Linked DNA regions of Homo sapiens: regions 1, 2, 4 and 5 are each linked to region 3. The links come from fine-mapping of genetic effects on gene expression. A gene starts in region 3. Each other region holds a variant in brackets. All regions are shown on one strand. Distances are from middle to middle. Region 1 overlaps HK1 (hexokinase 1). Region 2 overlaps HK1 (hexokinase 1). Region 3 holds the start of HK1 (hexokinase 1). Region 4 overlaps HKDC1 (hexokinase domain containing 1). Region 5 overlaps HK1 (hexokinase 1).

Region 1 (5,000 bases), 66 kb after region 3:
CGGCGTTTCCACAAGACTCTAAGGCGCTTGGTGCCAGACTCCGATGTGCGCTTCCTCCTCTCGGAGAGTGGCAGCGGCAAGGGGGCTGCCATGGTGACGGCGGTGGCCTACCGCTTGGCCGAGCAGCACCGGCAGATAGAGGAGACCCTGGCTCATTTCCACCTCACCAAGGACATGCTGCTGGAGGTGAAGAAGAGGATGCGGGCCGAGATGGAGCTGGGGCTGAGGAAGCAGACGCACAACAATGCCGTGGTTAAGATGCTGCCCTCCTTCGTCCGGAGAACTCCCGACGGGACCGGTGAGGGCCTGCTGGGGGCTGACATGCCTGTCCTGCTCCTGCCAGGAACTGAGCCGCAGTGGGGGAGGTTGGATTCGCCAGTGGATGCCTTCACACTGGTGATGCACGATTTTGCCAGAGCTAGAAACTCCCTCACATCTCTGTTTTCCATTTTTATTAACTGATTTGTCATGTGTGTGACTCAGGGCAGTTTAATTTTCCTGGTCAGACCTCCCAGGCAAGTGCTATCTCTAAAACCACAGCCCTGCTCAGAACAGTGCTCTTAGCTGGGCAAGGTGACACACGCCTGTCATCCAGCTACTTAAGAGGCTGAGGTGGGAGGACTGCTTGAGCCCAGGAGTTCAAGACCAGTCTGGGCAACATAGCAAGACCCTGTCTCAAAAAAAATTAAATGAATAAAAAAGAAGTGTTCTTAAAAGCTGGGCAAATCCCACAGCACTGATTAGGTTTTCCCAAAGCCAAGGAAAGCCAGCAGAAGGATAAACACTCAGTGTACCCTTCTTAAATCTTGATAGAGTATGCATGAGGCATTCAGGGCCTGGGGAGTTTCGCATTCAGGCAAATTGTAGAACAAAATCCAACCCTTTATGCTAACCTTGGTAGTTTTCACTGGAGCTGATCATTATGGGGAATCTGAAGAGCTTTTCAGGTGGGTCCTTGGAGTAACGAATGTTTGTGACAGGAATGTGTCCTATGTGTAAGTTACCTAATACCACATTATAAGCCACCCTCACACTTAGTGGCTTAAAACAACCACGCTTTATTATTGTTCATGCATCTGTGGGTCAGTTGGACAGTTCTGCTCATCAGGGCCAGGATTGGCTGACCTCTGCCGGCCTCATTCCTGCATCTGCAGTCAGCTGTTGAGTCAGCTGGGAGGCAGATCTCAGACGCCCTTCCCCACATGTCCAGCAGTTGGCTGTCAGCTGGGGTGCAGGGGCCCCTGGCCCTGTGTCTCATCCTTCAGTGGGCCACCTGGCTGTTCAAGTGGTGGCAGCAAGGGCTGCGAGGGAGAGGGGAAGACTTCAAAGCCTCCTGGAAGCCCAGGCTGGGGATAGGTTCAGCTTTGCCTCTGCCACACTCTGTTGGCCTGAACAATCCTAGGGCTGGGCTAGATCCCAGGGGAGGAGAAATTGACTCCATGTTTCAGTGGGAGGAACTGCAGTCATGTTGCAAAGAAGGATTTTGCACATGCAGGGAAGGGAATGATGCAGCTGTTTTTGCAAATACCCCACACCTTGACATAAATTATTATTTTTTGTAGGAGATTTTCATTGTTGCAGCCCTGGTGAAGTCTGTGTATTGTGACAGGTGGTTTACTCACATGCTCTCCTCCCAGTGTGGCTCCAAGTCTGTGGTGGTCAGAGATGTGGTGCCCACTCTTCCTCTGAGTCTGTGCTGTGTCCTAAAGGGAGGAGTTGCAGCTTCTCCTCTATGTTTGCTATGGGGTTCTCCCCTTGAAAGTCTGGAGTCTTGGGGTTACTGGCTGCCAAGAGGCACTTAGCTGTTTTTGACATTCTTTACGCTTTTGACTGCAACAGAGAATGGTGACTTCTTGGCCCTGGATCTTGGAGGAACCAATTTCCGTGTGCTGCTGGTGAAAATCCGTAGTGGGAAAAAGAGAACGGTGGAAATGCACAACAAGATCTACGCCATTCCTATTGAAATCATGCAGGGCACTGGGGAAGAGGTGAGATTACAAAACCATAGTGCATGTGCACTGCACACACGGCCAGTGGCACCGGCAGTCACGTGATGACCAAAATCCGCCACGGG[G/A]TGCCCACATGGATTTGTGTCCTTGTGGCCCAGAAGCACCAGATGCTTTTTGCCATGCCTGGCTTGTGACACTCTGGTGGCTGAGAAGATTCTGGAAAAGGAGGCTCACTCTGCATGTGTGTGGGGTGTGTTTTCCTACGTGTGTGTGTGTATACACACTTTGGTCCATGTGCACTGATAAAATTAAAACCACAGAGAGCACGGGCGATCCTTTCTTTTCCCCTGCAGCTGTTTGATCACATTGTCTCCTGCATCTCTGACTTCTTGGACTACATGGGGATCAAAGGCCCCAGGATGCCTCTGGGCTTCACGTTCTCATTTCCCTGCCAGCAGACGAGTCTGGACGCGGTGAGTCTCTGTTCTTAGGGCTCAGTGATCGGGCAGCACTGAGTCCCCTGTGGCCTGGGTGGGCTGGCCCTTGAGGCCTTCTCCAGCCTCAGTGTCATTCCTAGATGACAGTCACAGTCACAGTGGGTTGAGCCAGGCTTTATTTCACAGCCTGCAGGGCATACTGAGACTCTTCTCTCTTCTTTTCTCTTTGAAAGCGTCACCTTTTCTGGGAAACCTTCTGGTCCTCCAAGCAAAAAAAGAACCTCATCCTCTTCTGTGCCCCCTGTTCATTTGATTGTTGCCTTGCTTATAACACTTCTTACACAGTTAGTTCTTAGTGTCTTTTGTTTCTGCTAGTGGTAGACTCCGTGAGCAAGGACCTGTATCCCTGCACGCCCTAGCACAGTGTCCAATCAGAGGAGATAATAAATGTTTGTTCAATATATGAGATGAATCAGGGTCCAGGATCAGAGCTTGAGCACCTGCTGACTACTGATTGGCTGGGCTCAGAGCTGAAGGTTACAGCTCCTGTCCTTTGGAAGGCCACAGTCTAGTGGGGGAGCCGAGTCCCTAACACCAGCAGCTCCAGCTCCATGCTGTCAGGGCTGGGGAGTGGATTCTGGGCAGAAGGAACCAATGGTGCAGAGTCACGGAGGCAAGACCCAGCCTGTCACGCTGGAAGAGCTGTAGGTAGCTCTGGGTGTCACAGGTGGAGACGTGACCAGGCAGGAGTTCTGGAGGTGGGTCTTAGGCCAGGGTTTAAGGCTTAATGAGCAGCCCTAGGAGAGTTAGGTAGGGTCACCTACCTCTGTAAACCAGTTAATCCAGTTACATCGCTGACTTGGGACTTTTTTCTTCTGAAACCCTTTTAGAGCTCAGGAGTTAGATCTGTTTGTTTGTTTTTAAAGCATTTCACTTATACCTTCACCTTGGATTCATCATAGTCAACACACACCCAGTGTACTTTCTTCCCCAGGAAGTGTTTTAACTTCAATCCAGTGAAAGCTAAAATGTACTTTAGGTAGACACAGTATTACTAAACTCTTAGGATCCTTCAGTTATAGTGTCAGTAGACTCTTCTGTACAGCTGGTTATGCCAGTGGCAGCACCAGGCTTGGAATCGGGTGATCTGGGCTCTTGTCCAGTATTGAGTGCCGTCTTTGCCGTCTGCTGAGTGAACTTAGACATTGCTATTTACCTAATGTGCCTCATGCTCCATCTGTGAAGTGGGATTATTTCAAACCCCTATGAGGATGGTGAGGAGGGTCTATTCATATTTTATTGGTTTGTCCTCAGATGTTTGAACTCCGTCTCCGATGTTGTAAGCCCTCAGCAGTTGTTGACTCAGGAGGGAGGGTTGGAATTTTGTGTTCTCCCCTTCCAGGTTAATTACACAGGACTCTCCTGGTGCTTTTTATGTTGTAGGGAATCTTGATCACGTGGACAAAGGGTTTTAAGGCAACAGACTGCGTGGGCCACGATGTAGTCACCTTACTAAGGGATGCGATAAAAAGGAGAGAGGTAACTATTAAAAGAATGTTTTTTAAAATCTTTACTGTTTTAGGGGCTTCTAAAAAGTGTATTTGCCTGTTGTAAAGAATTCAGGCCAGGCGTGGTGGCTCACGCCTGTAATCCCAGCACTTTGGGAGGCCGAGGCGGGTGGATCATGAGGTCAGGAGTTCTAGACCAGCCCGGGCAATATGGTGAAACCCTGTCTCTACTAAAGTTACACAAATTAGCCAGGCGTGGTGGTGCGCACCTGTAGTCCCAGCTACTCGGGAGACTGAGGCAGAAGAATCGCTTCAACCCAGGAGGAGGTTGCAGTGAGCTGAGATCACGCCACTGCACTACAGCCTGGGCGACAGAGCAAGACTCCATCTCTAAATAAATAAATAAATAAATAAATAATACATAAAAAAGAATTCTAACAATACAGAAGTATGTGACCTGGCCAAGAAAAGCTCCCTATTTCCTGACTCCACTGCCCGCAATAAAATAAGGGCTCATAGGTTTGTGTTGTTAAAAGATTATTATTATTTTTTTTTTAGAAAGGCAAATCATGACTCTCATACAAATTGAAAAAGAGAGAAGCAGCCCCTGACAGGTGGGCACAGCCTGGCACTCTCAGTTAGGCCTTGGTGTTCTCCTGTGGAACACAAACAATTTCACAGAGTCCACAAACAATTGCAGAGCAGAAACATCAGACACAGCCACTCCGTCCGGGACCATGATGGATTTAGACAAGAATAAGACCAGTCTGTAACCATAGAATTGCCCCTGGTTCCTGACAATATCCAATCCAGAGCAAAGCCCCACTTCTTTAAACCTTCCCCCAAACCACAACACAGACACAGATCCAAATTAAACTTTTTTAAAAAAAATTTTTAGAATTTTAAAGTTTCCTTTTTTGAGACAGGGTCTTACTCTGTCACCCAGGCTGGAGTGCAGTGGAGCAATCTTGGCTCACTGCAACCTCTGCCTCCCAGGCTCAAGCGATCCTCCCGCTTCAGCCTCCCTAGTAGCTGGGATTACAGGTGGGCATCTACATCTGGCTAATTTTTGTGTTTTTGGTAAAGATGGTGTTTTGCCATGCTGC
Region 2 (5,000 bases), 21 kb after region 3:
AGGAAAATGGAAATGCTTAAGGTGAAGCCCCAAATGGGAGGTTACGAGCCCTGGAATCTAGACCCAGCTGCCATTTCTAAACTCCCCAACTTAGCTTGAATCATGGGTCTGTTTCCTCTCCTAGATAATGGAGATAATGATGTCTTTCCTGCCTACTTCACTGGGCTGCAGTGACAGGAGAAAGGGAACTAGCATTAAAGCACCTGCTTCCTGCGTGGCACTTGGCATCCACAAGCTCATTTCACTTCTTTCTACACAGTTCAAATGGGATAATGTATGTGAAGGTCCTGTATCTGAAGGGCCAGTGCACATGTGAGCCATTGCTAATTGTGATGTTAATAAGCACCCAGGACCCGTTCTCTCTGAGTCAGTGTCCTTAGCAAAGGGAAGTGAATTCTGATGTTGAAATCTCTGTCCTCCCCTAAGCTAACATCTTTCTTAACCCTTCAGGGTGCACGCCACAATTTCCTTTTGTAAGTGGAGCGCCTTGCTTGGAAAGTTCATTTTAAAGGCCTGCGTCAGCAGCTTCAGTCACGCCTGCTGTTCTGCAGCATTCTCGATCCTCACGGGAGGGTGGATGAGAGAGGGAGTGAAATTTTCCATGGCTGTGCACCCTTCCACGGGGTGGGGTGAAAATGGCTGGGATGGTTACCAGTGGTTACTGGTGCCTCCTGCTGCGACCGGCCTGTTCACTTGGGCATGTCCAATCTTGCGTTTGTTTTTTGTGCATGTTCTGTTGGGAGCAGGAGGTGGGGCTGGGGTCGGGCACAGAAATGTTTGTGAGTTGATTGCAGTGCTAGGCCATTGAGTTCTTTCCTTGGTTGGAGGGCTCTGAGCCAGGGAAGCTTGGCGAGGCTGTGTGTTCTCTGCTGATGACATGTCCTCCTGCTCTGCGGGGGTCCAACTTTGGGAGCCGCTGAGAGCTTCAAGGCCCCCTTGGTCCACAAGAAGGAGAATCCAGGACAAGTGTCTGGAAAGTGTTTGAGCAAGAGCGCCCGCCCTGTGCAGCCGGTCTGGCTACCCTCATAGGAAGGGCTCTTCACTCTGGGCAGCGGTGGACAGAGGCCCTGGAGGCTGGATGCGGGTTCTCAGGCAAGAGTCTGAGGGACCCAGCTCGGTGTCTGATGTCTGGTGTCTGGGACTGGGCGCCTTCCCATTTCCATCCCAGCCTGACCAGACTGACCAGAGTCCCACATATTCGTCTCAGACACTGGTTTGAGAGGGAGCATTTGAGGGCCTGGGTTTCTGTCATGACTCCTGGGAACCTCTGTCTTCTGATAGATGGTCCACAGACCGAGGCTTGCAGTGGAAGCAGCTGGAAGTGGTGCTGTGCGGTGTCCTCCCCAACTCCCAAATGGAGTGTGGGGAGGGATTCTTCGGGCACTGATGTTTGGCTGGAGCAGTAAAGCAGCGGTGATGTGGAGGCAGCACCTAAGAGAAGGGGACAGGATTATGGAGATGTGAGTGTGTGTGTGTGTGTGTGTGTGTGTGTGTAAGTACTTGTGTGTGTATGTGTGAGTGTGTGAGAGTGTGTGTGTGTGAGAGATTGTGTATGTGAGAGTGTGTGTGTGTAGAGAGAGAGGGAAGAGGGGAAAAGGAAGGAGGAGAGTAAAGATCTGGAGATGCTGTGGAGAGGAGGACAGAAATAGAAAAGTTGAAAGGCCAGACTTTGGCCAAATCCCCAAAGACCAAGAGTCAGCCTTTCTTCCTGGGTTTCTGGCAGAGATCTGGAGCAACTGGGCAGGAGAGATTTCTCCAATGCCCTTTCTTCCTCCCTCTCTCCTTCAACCCACTGCCCATTCCCAGCCTCTTTCCCAGGGAGACAGGCGTGGTCCAGTGGAGTGCCAGGAGGGGCTGGTCTGAACGAGGAAGATGCGTTTTGCTCAGTGAAGTGCTGGGTTCTCTGGGCCCCTGGAAGTTTTCTGCAGGTGTCTCTAGTCATGTGCTTTTCTCCAGTGCCTCCGGGCCACTTAAAGGCCCACAGTCCAGAGGGGCATGTCTGCTGAGTCCTGCACCAGGTGCCTGCCTGGCTGGGCAGTGTGGCAGATACCAGGGAGCTGACTTCTCCCCTGGCAGCCCAGCCCCAGGCCTAGGGTATTTGCTGGTTCAGTGGCCCCTTCTGATCTCCCGAGGACC[A/G]GTGGAAAGAAAGGGCTTCCCTTCATTGTCCTCATTCATGTAAAATCCAGGAGGCCCCAGTTTCAGTTCCGGCCTTGCCTCAATTGGGCCTCCCTTTTGGCCCCAGTATTCATGTCTCTTCTGAGAGGGGTTGTACCTCATGACGACTCATGAACCTGAACAAAAGGAGGAAAACCCTCCCTCCATAGCAGCTTGAGGACCAGGCCGTTCTCTGTGTCTGCAGCCTGCTTTTTGATTTGAGCTTCTAAGCTTTATTTGGATTTAGCTTGGTTGTCCTGAAACGTTGGGGTTTTTGGATCAATGTCTGTGTGCTGAGCTGCACCTTGACTTAGAAGGCAGGATAGCTGTGGAGTTATGGAGAGCTGCCTTTTCTAGAAGCTTCTCCTGTCCAGCGGGAAAACCCCAACAGCTCTACTTGGATCTGCCTTCTGCAGAGCAGGGGACCAGTCTTTCTTAAGGGGCAGGGATGATTGTATGGAGGAGCCTTAGACTTGCAGGTATAAAACCTCACTCCCCCAGCTGTGTGCTTTGAACTAATCACTTAGCTTCTTGGACCATCAGTTTCTGTGTCTGTAAAATGGGGATTAAGAACATCTCCCAGACAGTTTTGAAGGTTAAATGACATACTGGATCTTGATATACTGATATACTGTAAGCCACAAGAGAATTATATAGTATTATTCCAGGATCCAGCATTGTTTGAATTCCTCCTTTGTGTCAAGCAACTGGGTGAGTTCCAAAGGTCTATTCAATATGTTTTCTTTCCCTGGGGAACTCACGCAGTATCATAGGAGATGGACAGCTTGGTAAAAGGATAATCATGATGTGTGAGGAGTGTGGTCGTTGGGGCGTGTCCAAAATGCTGGAGTAGCAATGTACCTTTTTTAAAATTAAAATTAAAAAAAATTTTTTGAGATGGAGTCTTGCTGCATTGCCCAGGCTGGAGTGCGATGGCGCGATCTTGGCTGACTGCAATCTTCTCTACCTCCTGGGTTCACGCGATTCTCATATCTCAGTCTCCTGAGTAGCTGGGATTACAGGCATGCACCACCATGCCCAGCTAATTTTTGTATTTTTAGTAGAGACCGGGTTTTACCATGTTGGCCAGGCTGGTCTTGAACTCCTGACCTCAGGTAATCCACTCGCCTCGGCCTCTCAAAGTTCTGGGGTTACAGGCATGAGCCATTGCTCCCGGCCTTAAAATTAAAATTAAAAAATATTTTAGAGGTGCGATATCACTATGTTGCTCAGGCTGGTCTTGAACTTTTGGGCCTAAGCAATCCTCCTGCCTCGGCCTCCCAAAGTGCCAGGATTACAGGCATGAGCCACTGTGCCAGCTAGCAATGTAGCTTTTATTGTATGATCTTGCGCTTGCTCCTCCATTCTCCACGCAGCAGACACACAACTCTCATCATGGTTGTAATCAGTAAAGCCGTCCCAAGGCTCGCTGTGCTGTGGGATCCCGCTTGTATTTGTTTATGTGGCTCATCAGGCCCTGTGTGGTTGAGCTCTGGACAGTCTTTCCAGGCACACCGTCTGCTTGTTCATCACAAAAACCACCCTCCCTCCCCTTCGGACTTCACACATGCCCTTGCTTGTGCCTGGGCATGCTCTCCAACTTCGCCTCTCCAGGAAGCCTTCTCTCCCATGCTTGCAACGTGGCTGTCTCTCCCTGCAGACCCAGGGCACTATGATGGCAAGGGCTGCTGATGAATGCCACCAGCCAGAATAGGGCATGGCTTGTCTCTCCTCCCAGGGCCATGTTTTTGGCAATTTTATTTCCTTTAAAAAATATATATACATATTTCTTTCTTTCTTTTTTTTTTGGAGACTGGATCTAAGTCTGTCACCCAGGCTGGGGTACAGTGGCAGGATCATAGCACCCTGCAACCTCTGCTTCCCCAGCTCAGGCAATCCTCCCGCCTCAGTCTCCCGAGTAGCTGGGACTACAGGGGCGTATCACCACGCCTGGCTAATTTTTGTATTTTTTTAGAGACGAGGTTTTGCCAAGTTTCCCAGGCTGCTCTCGAACTCCTGGCCCCAAGCAATCTGCCTGCCTTAGCCTCCCAAAGTGTTGGGATTACAGGTGTGGGCCACTGCTCCTGGCCAATTGTTAATTTTTTTTTTTTTTAGAGACAGTCTCACTCTGTCACTTAGGCTGGAGTACAGTGGTTCAATCATGGCTCAATGCAGCCTCAACCTCTTGGGCCCAAGTGATCCTCTTGCCTCAGCCTCCCGAGTAGCTGAGACTACAGGTGTGCATCACCATGCTGGGCTAATTTTTATTTTTTGTAGAGACAGGGTTGTTGCCCAGGCTAATCTCGAACTCCTGGGCTCAAATGATCCTGCTGCCTTGGCCTTGCAAAGTTCTAGAATTACAGGTGTCAGCCACCATGCCTGGCCTCTTCTGGCAATTTCTATTCTGGCTCTTGGTGGTTCCTGATTGCCCTTCTTTGAGCTGCTTTATTGTAAAGGGAAAAAGGTGGTAGGGCTAGTGGTTAGGAGTGGGGGCAAGGATCATCCTTGGGCGCAGAGAGTGTTGGCAGACATTTTGGGAGGCCTAGGTGGGTGGATCACTTGAGGTCAGGAGTTTGAGACCAGCCTGGCCAACATGGTGAAACCCTGTCTCTACTAAAAATACAAAAATTAGCAGGGCGTGGTGGCGCACGCCTGTAATCCCAGCCACTCAGGAGGCTGAGGCAGGAGAATTGCTTGAACCTGGGAGGTGGAGGTTGCAGTGAGCCAAGATTCTGCCACTGCATTCCAGCCTGGGTGACAGAGATAGACTATGAAAAAAAAACCAACCCCAAAAACAAACAAACAAACAAACAAACAAACAAACAAAGGAAAAAACACCAGTGTTA
Region 3 (5,000 bases):
GGGCCATGAAGGGATTTAGGGAAGGGTCATGACATGATTATGCTGCATTTTAGCAGGATTAATGTGACCTGGTGCTCAGAATGACTTGGATGGCATGAGGCCAGGAGCCGAGGAGGACAGTTAGAAGACTCTTGTAATATTTCTGGCACAGGGAGATGGACTGGGAGTTGGGAGGTGGCAATAGGTCAGGCCTAGAGACATTTCTCAGGAAATATTGACAGGCCTTGGGGCCTGGTTGCATTCATGGAGTGGGGAGGAATGAGTCACCTTGAGAAGCAGTTTCCCTCTCAAAGGCCAGGGAAGACAAAGCAGAGGCAGCTTTCCTGCCTGCAAACAGGACATTTCAGGGTAACCTGGCTCTTCCAAGCGTCAGCTTCTCCCTGGCTCCAGCTCAGATAGGAGTTGTAACAACGGGTTGGGCATGGGTGATGGCACCGGCTGGTGGCTGGGTTAAGGGCCATGTTTTTGATTATGCATTAGGCTTATTCAGCCTGCCAAGTGCCAGGCCCTGCGCTTGTGTAGGAGACAGAGCAATTAGCAAAACATAGTCCTCCATCCTCAAGGAGTTTCCAGCCCTGTGAGCTTGGCAGATCTGCAGAACTCAAATGAAATGGCAGTTGAGAACAACCATCTTGTTCTCATTCACTCCATTTTGCTTAACGGCCATGTAGGTAGTTCCAAATGTTTGATGTGTACCAGAAAATCTCTCTCTTCCTGGTTTATAATTATGATCCAGGGCAAATCCAGGTTTTGTTGGGCTTGAAAATTAAATAAATTGGCACTCTCTATGGAAAATAATTCAAATATAAATATACAAATATCACACTGCTAGGCCCTCCCAGGGCCTAGAAGGGTAGGAATGAAAGTGAGAGTCCCTGAAGCTTTAACCGCATTAACTTTTCAGTCAGTTCTATGATACCTGCCATTCCTTAAGTGTGTATTATGTGCACGTATTTTGCGTACAGTATTACACAACAATCAAGGGGAGGTGAGGTGGGCATTAGTGTCTTCATCTTATGGATGAAGACACAGTCTCAGAGGTGATTCAAGATGCCCCTCTGCATAGGCCCTAAGGCAGGGGGTGGGGACTGTGACCTGGACAGGAAGCTGGGGCCTCAGGACTGCATCTAAGCTCCTCCTTTTCTGTGGGTGATGGTGGCTGTCAGGCCCCTGAACCTACGTCATCCCTCCCTCTGATTTGACTGTACCTTTGCTAGGCCTGGTCAAGGGCTAGGGACTCCTAAAGTCAAGAGCTAGGGTAGAGGTTGGGGGTTGGATCTCAGGGCACCATATGGTGCAGACTTGGTTGCAGGAAAGTGACCTATTTAGGCAGAGGGGCTCTATACAACTGGGACCACAGCAAACCCTAGAGGTGAGCACCTGCTTCAAAGACTCACAGATCCAAGCTGTGATCCTAGATCTACAACTTCCTGGCTGTATAAAGTCCAGCAAGACTGAGGCCTCACTGAGCTTCAATTTCCTTACCTGTCTAACCAGAATAGCAACAACTTGTTTGTATATTTGAGCTCATTACATGTCATTTTGTAAGGCACTAAAGCTCCTGGAGGCTTCCGGAACACAGAAATAATTAATCTAAGAATCCTAAAGTGGCTGTCCTGGTAGCACCTCTAGGGAGTCCTCCCATCCTACGTAACTTCCTCTGGGAAAGTAGAAAACACGGCACCTGGGAAGGGGCGCTGAACCGTGCCCCAAGTCCCAGTGGGCCTGGATGCCCAAGAGCAAGAGGAGGCCCAGAGGATGGGGACAGGCCACGACCTGTGGCCCAAGTCCCGCCCAGAGGGAGTGCGCCCTGAGGGAGAGCCACCGGAGCTGGTGACTCGGGGGCGGGTGCTCTGGGGTGTCGCTTTGGGTTCAGCAATACAAATCTGCCAGCTGGAGATTAGGCGGGGCACGCCGGGGAGAGGTGATGCACTGCCGCTGAAGACCCAGGTAGGCCGGTGCGTTCGGCCTGGGTGAGGAAGGCGCGGGACCCGGGTGCGAGGACTGCGTAGCGTCCCCGGCTCCCGCTTCCGCCCGCTTTCCACGCCCACTTCTGCAAGTCCCCTCCGGCACCTCGGCGTCCACCGGACTCCTAGGGGCGAGCCCTCATTTCCGAGGAATGGGACCGCCTTCGTGCCCCCGGGGCTGCCAGTCCCTAGACTAGCCCTAGGGGCTTCTCGTCCCGGCGGAGCCGGGCGGTGCCTCCTGCCTGCGCCTCGCACCTCCCCGCCTGGCACGGCCCACCCGGGCACGGCGCCGCCACGCGTGAAGGCCCGCATCGGCTCCCTACGTGGGGGACGTGCAGGATGATGCGGGGTCGGGGGGGATTTCGCTGCGTCGCCCGCCCCCTTTCCGGCGCAGGAGGGAGCGGCCGCCGCGTCCCCGCTCCCCGGCCGGGACGCCACCGCCGGGCGTTGCAGAGGCGCGCCGCAACCAATGGGCGTGGAGGAGGTGGGTCGGCTGGCGGCTGTCACCCTCCAGGGGACGGGAGCGCGGAGACCGGGAGCGCGCGAGCTGTCGCCGCGCCCCGGGCCGAGGGGGAGGAGCCGGGGGAGGAGGAGGAGGAGGAGCCGCCGAGCAGCCGCCGGAGGACCACGGCTCGCCAGGGCTGCGGAGGACCGACCGTCCCCACGCCTGCCGCCCCGCGACCCCGACCGCCAGCATGATCGCCGCGCAGCTCCTGGCCTATTACTTCACGGAGCTGAAGGATGACCAGGTCAAAAAGGTGAGCCCCCGCCCGCGCCGCCGCTGGTCCTGGCCGCAGCCTTGCGTTCCGGCATCCGCTCGCCGCCTCCGCTGCCTCCATCCTCCGGCGCCCGGCCTTCTCCGGGCCAGCATCGAGTTGGACTGCAGGGCGCAAGGAAAGCCTTCGCCTTCGATTCTACCGGCATTGTCAGTGTCTCTGTGTGTGTGCGTTTTTGGGAGGGGGGCAATCGGGCGGAAGACCCCCGAGACCGGGCTGCCTGCTGCAGTGTCCTTGAAACGGGCCCTGGATGTCAGATAGGCCCCCGGGCTGTGCGGGGAGGTGGCCGGTGGGCCCTTCCGCAGGGCCTGTTCGGGAGGGTCCGAGCGCCGTGGGAGGAGGTGTGATCATGGAGATGCTGGGGAGGTGATCGAGCAGCAGGCGGGGGTGCTGGCTGGAGGCCAGGCCTCCCATATTTGGGGTTCCTGGCGGAGGGTGTCGGGTGCCCCGGAGAAGCTGTCGCCGGGCTCTCCCAGTTGTTTGAGCTGCTCGTTAATCTGAGGACGAGGTGACCCGCCCGGCTTCCCGGAACGGGGAGGGGCGGCGAGGCCACCGGAAACTTTGCTCATAGGCCTCGTGTCTGGAGCGGCACGTCTGAATGGAATTTTTTATTCCTCTTAAGCTGTAATTTCTAGCCAGCACAGGAGCTCAAATAAGCGACTGGTCATTTGAGTTGGGTGGACGCCTGTGGCATGCTTGTTCTAGCACTTGGACGCATGCATCCTCCTGTCCTGAGGTGTTGTTGCCTTTGACATCTTAGTGTAAAATACTGTCCGCTGGCAGGTCTTAAAGGTGTATTTGTCTCTTCTGCCAGCTGTGCTACCATATTTTAAAGAAACAGCCTAAGCTGTAGGGAAAGACGCCCGTTTTATCAGTGCCAGGTCTGGTACAGGCTCCAGGCCCACCCACCCTGAACGTGGTGACGTTATTGCTGGGGTTAGCTGGGATGGACTGGCAAAGTCATCTTGACTTTGGCGTTCAGACAGGTGGAGTTCTACAGGTGAAAGGCAGGAGTGACAGGCCTTGATTTTCTGCCCGGCAAGCCATAGGGTGTTCCATCCTCTTCCTGTGCATCTAAGATGACTCCCTCATCTGGCACCATAGGAAACAGGCCTACTGAGGGCAGCGACCTTATCAAGGTCACCCAGTGAGTTAGAGGCAGAGCCAGTCAGGGGGATCCAGGTCTCCCAGTGCCTCCACCCAGGAACTTCACCAGGGTCCTCCTGGAGGTCAGCTTCCAGGAGGGAGTGGGTACTGAGAGACAAAGCCGCTGGGGACCCTGCCGTGATCTTGGATCCCATGGTGGGTGGGGACCGGGAGTGAGGTAGGTAGGAGATAGGCTTGGGAATGCCATCTGCCATTGCTCTTTATGGCTTTAAGCACTCTGGGGTTGTCAAACCGTGGCACTCGAAACACTTGCTCCTATGGAGCACCCTGGAGCTTCCCTCTGGCCACTGACCTGGGAGCTGTGCGTGCGGGTGTGTGCATTTCATGAGTTTTCTCTAGTGGTGTTGTGCATCACTGATGTTCTTCCCATTGGACCAGGGAGACAGTTCTCCCGGCATGGCAAGAAGTGCCCAGAACAGGCCTCCTGAAGCCAAGAGTTCACTGTCCTCCTGCACGTGGTGTCCTTTATAGCTCAAGACAGTGGGCTGCTGGGCTGGGGGGTGCCTGGGTGACCTTGTAAACCTCCAGTGTCCACACCCACCACCACCCACAACAGACTGCTGGCTGTTGGCTGCCGGTGGCCTCCAGCAGCTGAGCTGGGCTGAGGTTTGGACTCCATTCAGTGGGACATGTTTTCTCAGACATACAGTGTCTAGGGTGGGCCCAGAGCTCTCCACTCCTGTGGGTGGCTCAATTCACATCTATGGATGCACAGTCTATCTCCTAGGCCCCCGTAGGTACCTGAGTGTGTGATTCAGTTGACCCTTCCATCCCTCCTCACTCCGAGTTTGGGATTCTGATGTTCTTCCCTTCTCTTCCCCGAGAACCTTGCTGGAGGAAGGTCTTAAGGCCAAGGTTTCCACCAGATATTATTTGTCAAGGAGATTCTTAAAAACAAGATGTTTGCTTGCATTTCACCACGGACTTCCTATGCTGCTTTCTATAGGGGAGTACGTGGATTCCTGCCAGGGGGTCCACTCATTTTGCATAGTGGACTGTGTGGCACAGCCATCTGTGGGTGTGGTCCTGGCTATGATTGCGCCACCGCACTCCAGCCTGGGCCTTCTAAGGACAGTGACATAGTGGGTAC
Region 4 (6,407 bases), 78 kb before region 3:
TTAACCAAAGAGAAATTTCTTTGTGTGTGTGTGTGTGTGTGTGTGTGTGTGTGTGTGTGTGTTTTCTGATAATAAAATAAATGGTAATACTTTTTTCAAGGTTTAAAAAAAGAGAGAGAGAAGGAATGGAAAAGTTTAAAGAAGAAAATAGAAATCACCACTCATCTCAATATTCAAATATTCCCACCACTAGAATTGTGGGTTTTTCTTTTACTCATACCTATATTAAATACAAGTGTTATCCTGTATCTACAGTTTAGCAAATCTATGGTTGATTCTAGTCACCAAATATTTGAGACAAAAAGAAAATGTACAGTTGTATGTAATTGCCTTTTTAATTTAACATTCTATCGCAAGCATTTATCCCTCACTTCCCCCATCCACCTTCCCTGCAACAGGGATTTTTGAAGAAAGCCAGCCTGTGCATCTCTCCCCGCTCTGTCCCTGGAGACAGGGATGTTGTCATAGCCTATGAGAGCAGAAGTTAGGGAGAGCTGCCACACGGCGGCGCTGTGGTGCAGGAAAAAAGCCCGAGGGCTGGTCCAGAGTCAGAGACCTGCATTCGGCTTGGGCTCTATCCTTCACTCGCGGTGAAATTCAGAGCAATTTCCTCCCTCTCTCAATCCCAGCGTTTTTAAATCCATAAATTGAGGGAAATGGAGGAGGTGCGGTCAGGAAGTTTGTGAGCCTGGGTCAGCTGCTCTTGACTGAGACGACTTGGGCGATTCTCTTTTAACTTCCAAGTTCTCTTCCAGTCTGAAACATTCTATGATTATTTGCGATTTCAGACACGAAACTCAGGAAACACCATTTGTAAGCAATGATTGGTAATGCAAATTGAGAACCATTTTTCTTTCTTTCTCTTTATTAAGAGACGAGGTCTCGCTATGTTGCCCAGGCAGGCCTGGAACTCCTGGCCTCAAGTGATCCACCTGCCTCAGGCTCCCAAGTAGCTGGGACTACAGGTACGGGCCACTCTGCCTGGTTGGGAATCATTTTTCTAAGTTGAAATGAAGTTCCTGAGACAATCCTGCAAGGTTACACCATGTTAGTTCTGTTTTGTGGACCTGGCAAACCATGCATTCTGCATGTATAATACACCAGGTATTTTCTTTTTTTTTTTTTTTTTTTGAGACGGAGTCTCGCTCTGTCGCCCAGGCCGGACTGCGGACTGCAGTGGCGCAATCTCGGCTCACTGCAAGCTCCGCTTCCCGGGTTCACGCCATTCTCCTGCCTCAGCCTCCCGAGTAGCTGGGACTACAGGCGCCCGCCACCGCGCCCGGCTAATTTTTTGTATTTTTAGTAGAGACGGGGTTTCACCTTGTTAGCCAGGATGGTCTCGATCTCCTGACCTCATGATCCACCCGCCTCGGCCTCCCAAAGTGCTGGGATTACAGGCGTGAGCCACCGCGCCCGGCCTACACCAGGTATTTTCATTAGAGCATTCCTTTGAGAGAGGTAGGGAGGTGACATTTCCACTTTGCAGAGGAGTAGACTGAGGCTCAGAGAGGTTAAACGACTTGTCTAATGTCTCATGAATCCAAGAGCTCTAACTTTTCAATAATTACTCCTTCTGCTACCATATATTTCAAACCACTCAGATGAGAGTAATAGTCCTTTAAATTATTAGAAAAGGCTGCAGAAGCAATGTTTTAAAAAAATTGGGGTGATTCAGCTTAGAGAAGAGAAGGCCATGGGGGATGCACGTAGGCATGAAGTTTCTGCGGCTCAGTTGCACATCTCAGCACGTCTTTCATTCAAACTGGACCTGAAATCTTCTCCCAGGGTGTCCTACTTTCGTGGACAAAAAAGTTTAAGGCACGAGGAGTTCAGGACACGGATGTGGTGAGCCGTCTGACCAAAGCCATGAGAAGACACAAGGTGAGGAATTCACCTCGGTGTGGGAGGCTCTCCCAGCCCTAGCTCCTTTCTCTTGGGTTGGTGGGGCTGGGGGTGAGGTGAGGGGGTCACATATGGTGCCTGCATGGAGGGAGAATCAGAGAAGGAATTGATCTTAGAAAAGGTCCCACTGTAGTACAGATGTGGCCAACTTGGATGAACCCACAGAGCCTTGGTAGGCGGGGCTTGCACCAATCCCTATTGAAAGGTGGCCAGCTCATCCCTGGGCCTCCCCAGCAGCCACAGCCCTCTCCGGAGGTCTTGGTTAGATCTGATGCTGTGTGTAGGCCCCACACGCCCTCCTCTCTGAGGCTGAAAAGATCATATACTTTCCGGGCTGGTTCCATATTCTTTCTGGGCTGGTTCTCTATTTCACTGTCCACTCCCTGTCCATTAAATATCCCTATTTGTTGAACGTATTTTACAATAATTTAAACTACTGCGAAAGCAAGACTCGCTCCTTGCTGAGCTGGAAAGTACACAAACCCAAATTGCTTGTTGCCCTGACAGCAAGAGGCATGTTTGCTGCATAGCCTTCCAGCCTTTTTTTCTTTAAAGCTGGGATCTTATTGTTTTATAGCCTGCATTTTCCCTTATTGTTTTCATTTTACTTTTTTTTTTTTTTTTTTAGAGATGAGGTCCTGCTGTGTTGCCCAGGCTGGCAGTGCCTGGCACTCCATCCTCGAATTCCTAGGCTCAAATGATCCTCCCACCTCAGCCTCCTGCATAGCTGGGACTATAGGCATAAGCCACATGCCTGGCTCTCATTTTACTTTAAAATGTTCTTCCAAACTTTGGGGGATGTTGGTGCAATAACCCAAGCTGACTTGGCAGAACAGGAAATCCAGACAGGAAGTCACCATGCCATACATGGGGAAGACTTGGCCGAGTCTGTGCCTGCTGGCTGAGTTGTCCCCGTGGGTGAGGACTTTGGTGTTTTCTCCTGGAAATGCCACTGGATAAACATGCTTTCCTCAATGTCTTCCCAGGATCTCACAAACAAAGGCTGAAACCTGGGTGTGATGTGTGCCTGTAGTCTCAGCTACTCAGGAGGCTGAGGCAGGAGGATCACGTGAGCCCAGGAGTTTGAGGCTGTGGTGTGCTATGTTTGTACCTGTGAACAGCCATCACACTCTAGCCTGGGCAACATAGTGAGACCCTATCTGCAGATTAAAAAATAAAATTTTTTAAATTAAAAAAAACATCGACAACAAAAAACAAGGGCTGGAGTCCCGGTGGCCTGTCCCTCATATTTCCATTGCAGAGGCCTTCACCCACAAAGCAAGAGGATGGGCTCCCCTCTTCAGCTCCTGTCGGCTCTTTCTCTCCCCTAGACCCTGAACCTTGATGAGGCCTTGCTCCTTCAGACAGGCCCAGCAGGCAGGATCTAGGGATGTCTCAGCAGCCACCTTCACTACCTGCTGCCTCTGTGGGGAAGGAGGGAGGGAAACACCTCCTTCCCACCCGCTGATTCCCTCTGGCCTTGTGTTCGGCAGGACATGGACGTGGACATCCTGGCCCTGGTCAATGACACCGTGGGGACCATGATGACCTGTGCCTATGACGACCCCTACTGCGAAGTTGGTGTCATCATCGGTAACTCAATTGGACTGGTTTTTTGAGGGTAGGGGAGAAGGGACTGTTTGGGAGTTTCATTTCAGCGAGCTCTGAGTGAATTCGGCGGGAAGGGCACTGCACTATTTAGGAGAAGCAACATAGGGACATGAAAAATTCATTCATTCATCCATTCGACAAGTGTTTACTGAGCACCCATTGTGTGCCGGCCCCTGGGCTTGGCACTGGGTTTGGAGTGGGGAGTTCCTGTGCTCCTGGAACTTTCAGTGGGGAGGTGGGTGAGAGGCCCAGAAGGCCTAGGCTATTAAGATAATTTCAGGTGGTGGTTAGCGTGATAAAAAAACAAAAAACAAAAAACAAAGAGAGTGATGTGACTGTGAGTGGGATGAGGCGTCAGGGAAGCCTCTCTGAGGGGTGGCATTTGAGCCGGGACCTCAGTGATGCAAACCAGGGAGCAAGGTGGAGGCCCGAGGGTAGGGAGTCCCTGCCAAAGGAAAGAGGACACCTACAGGCTTGGAGATGGGAAGGGGTCCAGGGAGGGGGCACTGGGGGAACCCTATAGCCGAGTGGTGTCCGGATGAGGTGAGTGAAGGCTGAGAGTCGGAGGCCATTCAAGTGAGAGG[C/G]AGAGGACAGACTGGGCAGATTGCACAGGATGTGCACACAGTCACTGTAAGGTCACCGGCTTATCCCCTGAGGGAGACTGGAAGGCACTGGGGGACTCTGGGTGGGGGATGGATAAATGGATGCGCATTTTATTTTATTTTTTTATTTGAGACGGAGTCTTGCTCTGTCGTCCAGGCTGGAGTGCAGTGGCACAGTCTTGGCTTACTGCAACCTCTGCCTCCCAGGCTCAAGCAATTCTCCTGCCTCAGCCTCCTGAGTAGCTGGGATTACAGGTGCCCACCACCACGGCTGGCCAATTTTTTGTATTTTTAGTACAGATGGGGTTTCACAGTGTTTGCCAGGCTGCTCTCAAGCTCCTGACCTCAAGTGATTCACCCGCCTTGGTCTCCCAAAGTGCTGGGATTACAGCCATGAGCCACCACGCCCGGCCGGATGTGCATTTTTTAAAAGCCCATTTTGGCTGCTGTGTGGATAATAGATTACTGGGGACAAGAGTGGAAGCAGGGTGACCATCCAAGAGACCACTGGACTGTCAGGCAAGGTGCACTGCAGCTGTGGACCAGAGAGGTCGTGGTGCAGTGGGGGTTTCCAGTGGGTGGTCTCCACACCAGAGCGAGGGGGTCAGCTGGAGGAATGTGTGGGAAGGCAGTTTGGGGTACAGTAAAGCTGAATGGCTCTGACTTATAGGTTGTTCTTGAATATCCCCTTCTCCTTTTCCCATTCCTTTACCACTCCTGGGGAAAGTTCTTCTGAATTGCTTTTTCTTAATGTCCCTCAAGACCCTCCTCAGCCTGGCTTTCCCAAAGGGCAGGTTTTTAAACCTGAGGGGCTCCCTCCACCCTTCTGTTTCCAGGAGCCTCAGAATGGTTCAGGCCCTTGCCAGTCATGGCACCCGCCTGTCACTGTGGCTGCGTCTGGTAACCACAGATTGGGGGGGCCACGCCTAAACAGTGTCCGTGCATTTCTGAGAAAAGCTTTTTCCAAATATTACATTCTGCTTTTCTACATTTCTCATTTTCCATGTTGGCATTTAAAATACTCATACCAGAGTATCAGCCAAGGGAAGATACTGAAGAAAAAAAAAAAAAAAAAAAAACCCGAAAATTCAAACAGCTTTATTGAGGCATAAAAGTCCTCCGATTTTAGGTATACGATTCAATGATTTGTAGTAAACGTATAGTTTTGTAACCATCACCACAATCCGATTTTAGAACATTTCTGTCCTCCCAAAAGAGTCCAAAAAGATGGTGCCCACTTGCAGTCATTCCCCAGTGCTCAAGTGTTTGAGGCATTTCCTTGGAGCGATTTTGTGTTTGCATAACGGAATGTTGCTTTCTTAGGTGGTAGCTAATCACAGTCTAAGATAAGGATGCAGCTTATGCTAGAAACAATTTGTGGCAGGCCATAAGTAAAGAATATTTTTAGTATCAAATAGAGAGGAAGCTAAGTAGCTTAAGGAAAGAATTTTCAAAATTACCCTGGGTTGGTGATTTTTTGAAAAAAATATTTACAAGATTATCTTCATTTGTCCTCTTGTAAGAGCGCTTCGTCAGCTTTCATCCATATTCATCAGCGGACTTCTTCACAATTGACTCCATTCAGAACAGCAAACCCTGAGCACCCTGAGAAGTGCAGACTTGACATGTCAGCTGTTTTCCCCATGTGCTTGGGGCTTGCCCAAGCTGCTTCCCTCAGCGAGAGCCAGCCCCCAGGGAATGAAAAGCACTTTGTGGTACATTGAGGAGGACTCCCCAGCAGTCAAGAGTTCTCTGTCTGTGCCCAGCTGGGAGTCCTCTCTCTGCATATTCTCTCTGATCCCTGGTTCAGGAACTGGCACCAATGCGTGTTACATGGAGGACATGAGCAACATTGACCTGGTGGAGGGCGACGAGGGCAGGATGTGCATCAACACAGAGTGGGGGGCCTTCGGGGACGACGGGGCCCTGGAGGACATTCGCACTGAGTTCGACAGGGAGCTGGACCTCGGCTCTCTCAACCCAGGAAAGCAACTGTGAGTTCCCTTCTGGTGTTATCTGGGCATCGGCACCAGGCAGTGCCTAATCACTCAGGTCCCCTGGCTACCTGGGAGGCTTTCCAGTTGTGACTAGCTATCCATCACAACTTTCTTTCTTTTTTTCTTTTTCCTTTTTTTTTTTTTTTGAGATGGAGTCTCACTCTCTAGCCCAGGCTGAAGTGCGGTGGCACGATCTTGGCTCGCTGCAACCTCCACCTTCCAGGCTCAAGCAATCCTCCCACCTCAGTCTCCAGAGGAGTTGGGACTACGGGCATGGGCCACCATTCCTGGCTAA
Region 5 (6,455 bases), 35 kb after region 3:
CGCATTGGTACCCCTGGAGCTGGAGTGGGGATTCAGCCCCACTTCCAACCTCATAGGTGAAAAATGGGAGGGTAGTTATCTAAAGAGATGCTGGACATCCAGGAAAGTTTATCAGTTATCTTGTTGTCCTTAACAGACATCATTCCTCAGTGTCTTTTGCCCGGCAGCGTATAGGACCAGCACTTTGGGAGGCCGAGGTGGGCGGATCACAAGGTCAAGAGATCGAGACCATCCTGGCCAAAATGGTGAAACTCCGTCTCTACTAAAAAATACAAAAATTAGTTGGGCGTGGTGGTGCATGCCTGTAGACCCAGCTACTCGGGAGGCTGAGGCAGGAGAATTGCTTGAACCCGGGAGTTGGAGGTTGCAGTGAACCAAGATTGCGCCATTGCACTCCAGCCCGGGCAACAGTGTGAGACTCCATCTCAAAAAAACAAACAAACAAAAACATGAAATAAATAAATGTTTAGGTGAACATTAAAACAGCAAATTAATTAAGTAAAATATTAAAATAAAAAGTACCGATCATTTCATCTCAGTGTAGTATTTGCTTTTGTGCCCCTTTTCCCCCTATGCACAAGTGGTTTATAGTTGTTTATCAGACTGAGCTTTCACTGTCTTCATTAGAGAATGAAGCAAAATAAAACCAAAGCTGGCCGGGCGCCGTGGCTCACGCCTGTAATCCCAGCACTTTGGGAGGCCAAGGCAGGCGGATCACGAGGTCAGGAGATCGAGACCATCCTGGCTAACACAGTGAAACCCCGTCTCTACTAAAAAAAAAAAAAAAAAAATTAGCTGGGCGTGGTGGCGGGCTCCTGTAGTCCCAGCTACTTGGGAGGCTGAGGCAGGAGAATGATGTGAACCTGGGAGGTGGAGCTTGCAGTGAGCCAAGATCACGCCACTGCACTCCAGCCTGGGCGACAGAGCGAGACTCCGTCTCAAAATTAAATAAATAAATAAATAAATAAATAAATAAATAAAACCAAAGCTAGGCCAGGCACGGTGGCTCACGCCTATAATCCCAGCACTTTGGGAGGCCAGGGCAGTCGGATCATCTGAGGTCAGGAGTTTGAGACCAACCTGGCCAAGGTGGTGAAACCTCGTCTCTACTAAAAATACAAAAAATGAGCTGGGCGTGGTGGTGGGTGGCTGTAATCCCAGCTACTGGGGAGGCTGAGGCAAGAGAATCGCTTGAACCCCGGAGGCGGAGGTTGCAGTGAGCCGAGATCGCGCCATTGCCGTCCAGCCTGGGCAACAAGAGTGAGACTCCGTCTCAAAAACAAAAACAAAAACAAAAAAAACAAAACAAAAAAACCCAAAGCTATAAGGAATCATGGAAGTTGAAGAGCCCCAGAAAAGAAGTGTAGCCATTCCTGATGTGCTGAAGTCTCTCTCTGGCCCCCACTTTCCTTGGGGATCCTTGTCCCTGAGTTCTGTCCAGGAGGCAGTTTTCATGGTTATACATTATGGCTTCGGATTCAAATGCTGACTCTGCCACTTACTGGTTGTGCGTTTGGGCAAGTTATCTAACCCCTCTTTACCTTTACTTGCTCATCTGTAGAATGGGCATCCTGACAGTACTGACTTCATAGGGTTGTGAAGATTGAAAATAAAAGGATACGTATAAGCACTTAGTGATTGGTACAGAAAGACTCAGTGAATGTTAGCTGATGGATGGTCAAATAAAATGTTTCTGATATTCTAGTGACTCACCTGCGAGGAGCTACTTCATACTGAATTCAATTTTTTCAGTTATTTCAATTTTTTTTTTTTTTTGAGACAGAGTCTTGCTCTGTTGCCCAGGCTGGAGTGCAGTGGCATGATCTCGGCTCACTACAACCTCCGCCTCCTGGGTTCAAGCGATTCTCCTGCCTCAGCCTCCTGAGTAGCTGGGATTACAGGCACCTACCACTACACCCAGCTAATTTTTGTATTTTTAGTAGAGACAGGGTTTCTCCATGTTGGCCAGGCTGGTCTCGAACTCCTGACCTCAAGTGATCCACCCGCCTCAGCCTCCCAAAGTTCTGGGATTACAAGCATGAGCCACTGCGCCCGGCTGAATTCAATTTTTTAACCTAGTGGTGGTGTAAAGTACTGTTGGAGTTAGGACTCCAATGGGAGCCCAAAGAAAATTCTATATTGATTTGAACAATGCCACAAAGTCGGGGTCAGAATTTCCACCAAATCTATGACACCTGCTTCCCAGCATTCTCCCTTGTTCTCTCTCTTTCCTTTGGACCACAAATAATTTAAAACCAGTGGCTTCATGTGATATATACATATAATGGAATATAATCGGTTCATAAAAAGGAATGAGGTACTGATCCACGCTACAGCATGGATGAGCCTTGAAAACCTTATGCCGGGTGAAAGAAGCCAGACACAAAGGACCTAATATTATACAATTCCACTTATATGAAATGTCTGGAATAGGGGCATCTGTAGAGCAGAAAGTACATTAGTGGTTGCTGGGAGATAGGGAGGTTGGGAGGAAATGGTGAATGGTTGTTAATGGGTATGGAATTTCTTTTGGGATGATGAAAATTTTCTAAAATTAGATAGTGGTGATGGTTGCACAACTCTGTAAATATGCTGAAAACCACTGAATTTTTCACTTTAAAATGGGTAAAAATTGTATGCTATATTATTATATCTCAATAAAACTGTTATTAAAAAAACAACCAACCAATATGTGAAATAATAAGAAATATACATGTTGGTCTCTGCCCCTAGTCTCTAGCATTTAGCTTCTAAAACCCTTGTAATTTCTTGAGCAATACAGGTGCTAGGAGAATCTTTGATCCTGGTCCTGACTCAGAGCTCCTAAATCCCTTGGAATTTCTTGGGTGATAGGAGAGTCTCTTTTGTTCCTTGGTGGGACCCTGGATAGCCTCAGGATGGGGGGCTGGTTGCCAGGGGGAACCAACCATGTGATCAGAGGGTTGCTGTCAGCCCCAACCCCCATGCCGCCTCCAGGGAGGGAGAGAGCCTGAAAATAGAGCGAATAAACCAATGGTCGATGATTTAATCAATCGCAACTGTGTAATGGTGCTTCCACAAAAACCTAAAACAGGCCAGGTATGATGGCTCACGCCTGTAATCCCAGCATTTTGGGAGGCCCAGGTGGGTGGATCGCTTGAGCCTAAGAGTTTGAGACTAGCTTGGGCAACATGGTAAAACCCTGTCACTACACAAAATACAAAAAAAAGTTAGCCAGATGTGGTGGCACGTGCCGGTAGTTCCAGCTACTCGGGAGGTTGAGGTGGGAGGATCGCTTGGGCTCTGGAGGTTGAGGCTGCAGTAAGCTGTGATCATGCAACTGCACTGCACTCCAGCCTGGGTGACAGAGTGTGACCCTGACTCAAAGAACAAACAAACAAAACCAAAAAAAAAAAAAAAAAGCAAAAAGAAGAAAACCTAGAATGACTGAGTTCTGGTAGCTTCTGTCTAGCTGAACACATGGAGGTTCCTGGGTGGCACATCTGGAGGGGGCATGGAAACTCCTGCCCTTTCTCCCATGCCCCTCCCTGTGTATCTCTTCCATCCAGTTCTTCATCTGTATTTATTGTAATATCCTTTATAGTAAATATGTAAATGTAAGTGAAGTGTTTTTTCTGGGTCTGTGAGCTGCCGTAGCAAACTAATGCAACCCAAGGAGGGGGTTGTAGGAACCCCGATTTATAGTGATCAGCCAGAAGCACAGGCCACAACCTGTGCTTGTGACTGGTGTCTGAAGTTGGAGGGAGGGCAGCCTCGTGTGAACGAGCCCTCGACCTGTGGGATATGATGCTATCTCCAGGTAGCTAGTGAAATAATTGAATTGAATTAGAGAGCATGGAGCTGGTGTTCACTGGAGAATTCACTGCAGAATTACTTGCTTGGTGTGTGGGGAAAAACCCACATGCATCCAGGGTCACAGGTGTGTTCTGTGTTGTGGTGAGTAGAGAAAAGGAAAAACATACTCTGGTTTTTCCTCTGTGTGTGTCTCACATGATGGCGTAACTGCTTTGTGCTTAATAAACAGCAAGCAGGGGTGCTGTATTAGTCCGTTTTCATACTGTTAAAAAGAACTGCCTAAGACTGGGTAATTTATAAAGGAAAGAAGTTTAGTTGACTCACAGTTCAGCATGGCTGGGGAGGCCTCAGGAAACTTACAATCATGGTGGAAGGAGAAAAGGCATCTTCCTCACAAAGCGGCAGGAAGGAGAAGTGCTGAGCGAAGGGGGAAGAGCTCCTTATAAAACCATAAGGTCTCATGAGAACCCACTCACTATCACGAGAACAGCATGGGGGGAACCACCTCCATGATTCAGTTACCTC[C/T]ACCTGGTCTCTTTCTTGATATGTGGGCATTGTGGGGGTTACAACTCAAGATGAGATTTGGGTGGGGACACAAAGCCTAACCATATCAGGTGCCTTGAATGAATGAATGGACCACCAGTCCCTGTGACCAGGCAGCTAATGAGCATTTGCTGAGCTGTCCTGGGTGCCAAGGACAGAGAATCCCAAGTTGTGGTCTTTCCCTCAAGGAACTTGAGAACGAAGATAGGAACAGGCTGGGCGCAGTGGCTCATGCCTGTAATCCTAGCACTTTGGGAGGCCAAGGCAGGTGGATCACCTGTGGTCAGGAGTTTGAGACCAGCCTGACCAACATGGTGAAAACCCATCTCTACTACAAAATACAAAAATTAGCCAAGCATGGTGGTGGACACCTGTAATCCTAGGTACTCGGGAGGCTGAGGCAGGAGAATCACTTGAACCTGGGAGGCAGAGGTTGCAATGAGCCAAGATCACGCCATTGCACTCCAGCCTGGGCAATGGAGGAAGACTCCCTCTCAAAAAAAAAAAAAAAAAAAAAAAAGATAGGAACAGTGACATTCAATGTGAGAATTCCTTGGTTTGTTGTTTATTTCTTTATACCTTCATTAATTCCACAAGTATTTGCTCAGTTTTTACCTACATTCCAAACACCATTGTAAGTTCCAGAAATATAGCAGTGTGTCAGGGCTTATAGCTTGGTAGAATCAAATACAAAGATAAGTCAGCTTTATTGTTAAAAACAGAAAGCAAACCTTATTTTGTGTTGAAAATCAAAAGCTCAAGGGACCCAGAATAACCAAAGCAATCATGAAAAAGAAGAACAAAGCTGAAGGAATTTCACTGCCAATTTCAAAATTTTCAGCAAAGCAACAGTAATCAAGACATGTGGTACTGGCATGAAGGTAGACATGCAGACTAATGGAACAGAATAGAGAGTTCAGAAATAAATGCATACAGGCTGAGTGTGGTGGCTCATGCCTGTAATCCTAGCACTTTGGGAGGCCGAGGCTGGTGGATCACCTGAGGTCAGGAGTTTGAGACCAGCGTGGCCAACATGGTGAAACCCCGTCTCTACTAAAAATACAAAAAAATTAGCCAGTTGTGGTGGCACACGCCTGTAATCCTAGCTACTTGGGAGGCTGAGGCATGAGAATTGCCTGAACCCGGGAGGTGGAGGTTGCAGTGAGCCGAGATCATGCCACTGCATTCCAGCCTGGGTAGCATTCCAGCCTGGGTAACAGAGTGAGACTTTGTCTCGAAAAAAAAAATAAATGCATACATTACGGTCAATTGACTTTTGACAAGAATGCTAGGACTATTCAATGAGGGAAAGAATAGTCTTTTCAGCAAATGGTGCTGGGACACTGGATATCCACATGCAAAAGAATGAAGTTTGACCTACACCTCATACCATATATAAAATTAACTTGAAATGGATCAAATACCTAAATGTGGGAGCTAAAACTAATAAAACTCTTAGAACGAAATACAGGTTTGAATCTTTGTGACCTTGGATTTGGCAATAGAGTCTTAGCTACAACTCCAAAAGCACAAACAATAAAAGAAAAAACGTAAAACTGGACTTCATCAAAATTTAAAACTTGGCCATGCTTGGTGGCTCATGCCTGTAATCCCAGCACTTTGGGAGGCCAAGCAAGAGGATCACTTGAGCGAAGGCATTTGAGACAGCCTGGGCAACATAGTGAGACCTTGTCTCTAAAAAAAATTAAAAATTAGCCAGGTGTGGTCGTATGCCTGTAGTTCCAGCTACTTGGGAGGCTGAGGCTGGAGGATTTCTTGAGTCCAGGAGGTCAAGGGTGCAGTGAGCCATGATTGCACCATTGTACTCCAGCCTGGGCAACAGAGCAAGACCCTGTCTCAAACACAACAACAACAAACATAAAATGTTACTGCATCAAAGGATACCATAAAAAAAAGAAAAGACAATCCACTGAATGGGAGAAAATATTTGCCAGTCATATGTCTGATAAAGGATTTGTATCTAGAACATAAAAAGAACTTTTACAACTCAACACATAAAAGACAAATGAGGCCGGGTGCGGTGGCTCACGCCTGTGATCCCAACACTTTGGGAGGCCGACGCAGGCGGATCACAAGGTCAGGAGTTCGAGACCAGC

What was found.
Region 1: its variant is fine-mapped to the expression of HK1 in whole blood (INTERVAL, PIP above 0.99). The same link has a PIP of 0.9 or more in blood mononuclear cells.
Region 2: its variant is fine-mapped to the expression of HK1 in whole blood (TOPMed, PIP 0.98).
Region 4: its variant is fine-mapped to the expression of HK1 in whole blood (INTERVAL, PIP 0.97).
Region 5: its variant is fine-mapped to the expression of HK1 in whole blood (TOPMed, PIP above 0.99).

Annotation. Positions count from the first base shown.
Region 1 is chr10:69,382,494-69,387,493 of GRCh38, forward strand. HK1 (hexokinase 1) reads left to right here. Exons shown (of 18, transcript NM_000188.3): 10 at 1-298; 11 at 1,840-1,988; 12 at 2,303-2,422; 13 at 3,830-3,925. Among named protein-coding and RNA genes, the nearest start is that of TACR2, 32 kb to the right of the region's middle. The variant G/A (reference allele first, on the strand shown) is at 2,075.
Region 2 is chr10:69,337,217-69,342,216 of GRCh38, forward strand. The region is part of intron 1 of HK1 (hexokinase 1); the gene reads left to right. Among named protein-coding and RNA genes, the nearest start is that of HK1, 21 kb to the left of the region's middle. RefSeq lists enhancers at 1-552, 553-1,238, 1,927-2,612. The variant A/G (reference allele first, on the strand shown) is at 2,137.
Region 3 is chr10:69,316,286-69,321,285 of GRCh38, forward strand. It overlaps HK1 (hexokinase 1), which reads left to right and starts at 2,562. Exons shown (of 18, transcript NM_000188.3): 1 at 2,562-2,725. The coding sequence starts at 2,663. RefSeq lists enhancers at 1,576-1,805, 3,096-3,145, 4,731-5,000 and a silencer at 2,116-2,795.
Region 4 is chr10:69,237,257-69,243,663 of GRCh38, forward strand. HKDC1 (hexokinase domain containing 1) reads left to right here. Exons shown (of 18, transcript NM_025130.4): 5 at 1,786-1,881; 6 at 3,396-3,495; 7 at 5,926-6,109. Among named protein-coding and RNA genes, the nearest start is that of HKDC1, 20 kb to the left of the region's middle. The variant C/G (reference allele first, on the strand shown) is at 4,098.
Region 5 is chr10:69,350,235-69,356,689 of GRCh38, forward strand. All of the region lies in intron 2 of HK1 (hexokinase 1), which reads left to right. Among named protein-coding and RNA genes, the nearest start is that of HK1, 35 kb to the left of the region's middle. The variant C/T (reference allele first, on the strand shown) is at 4,321.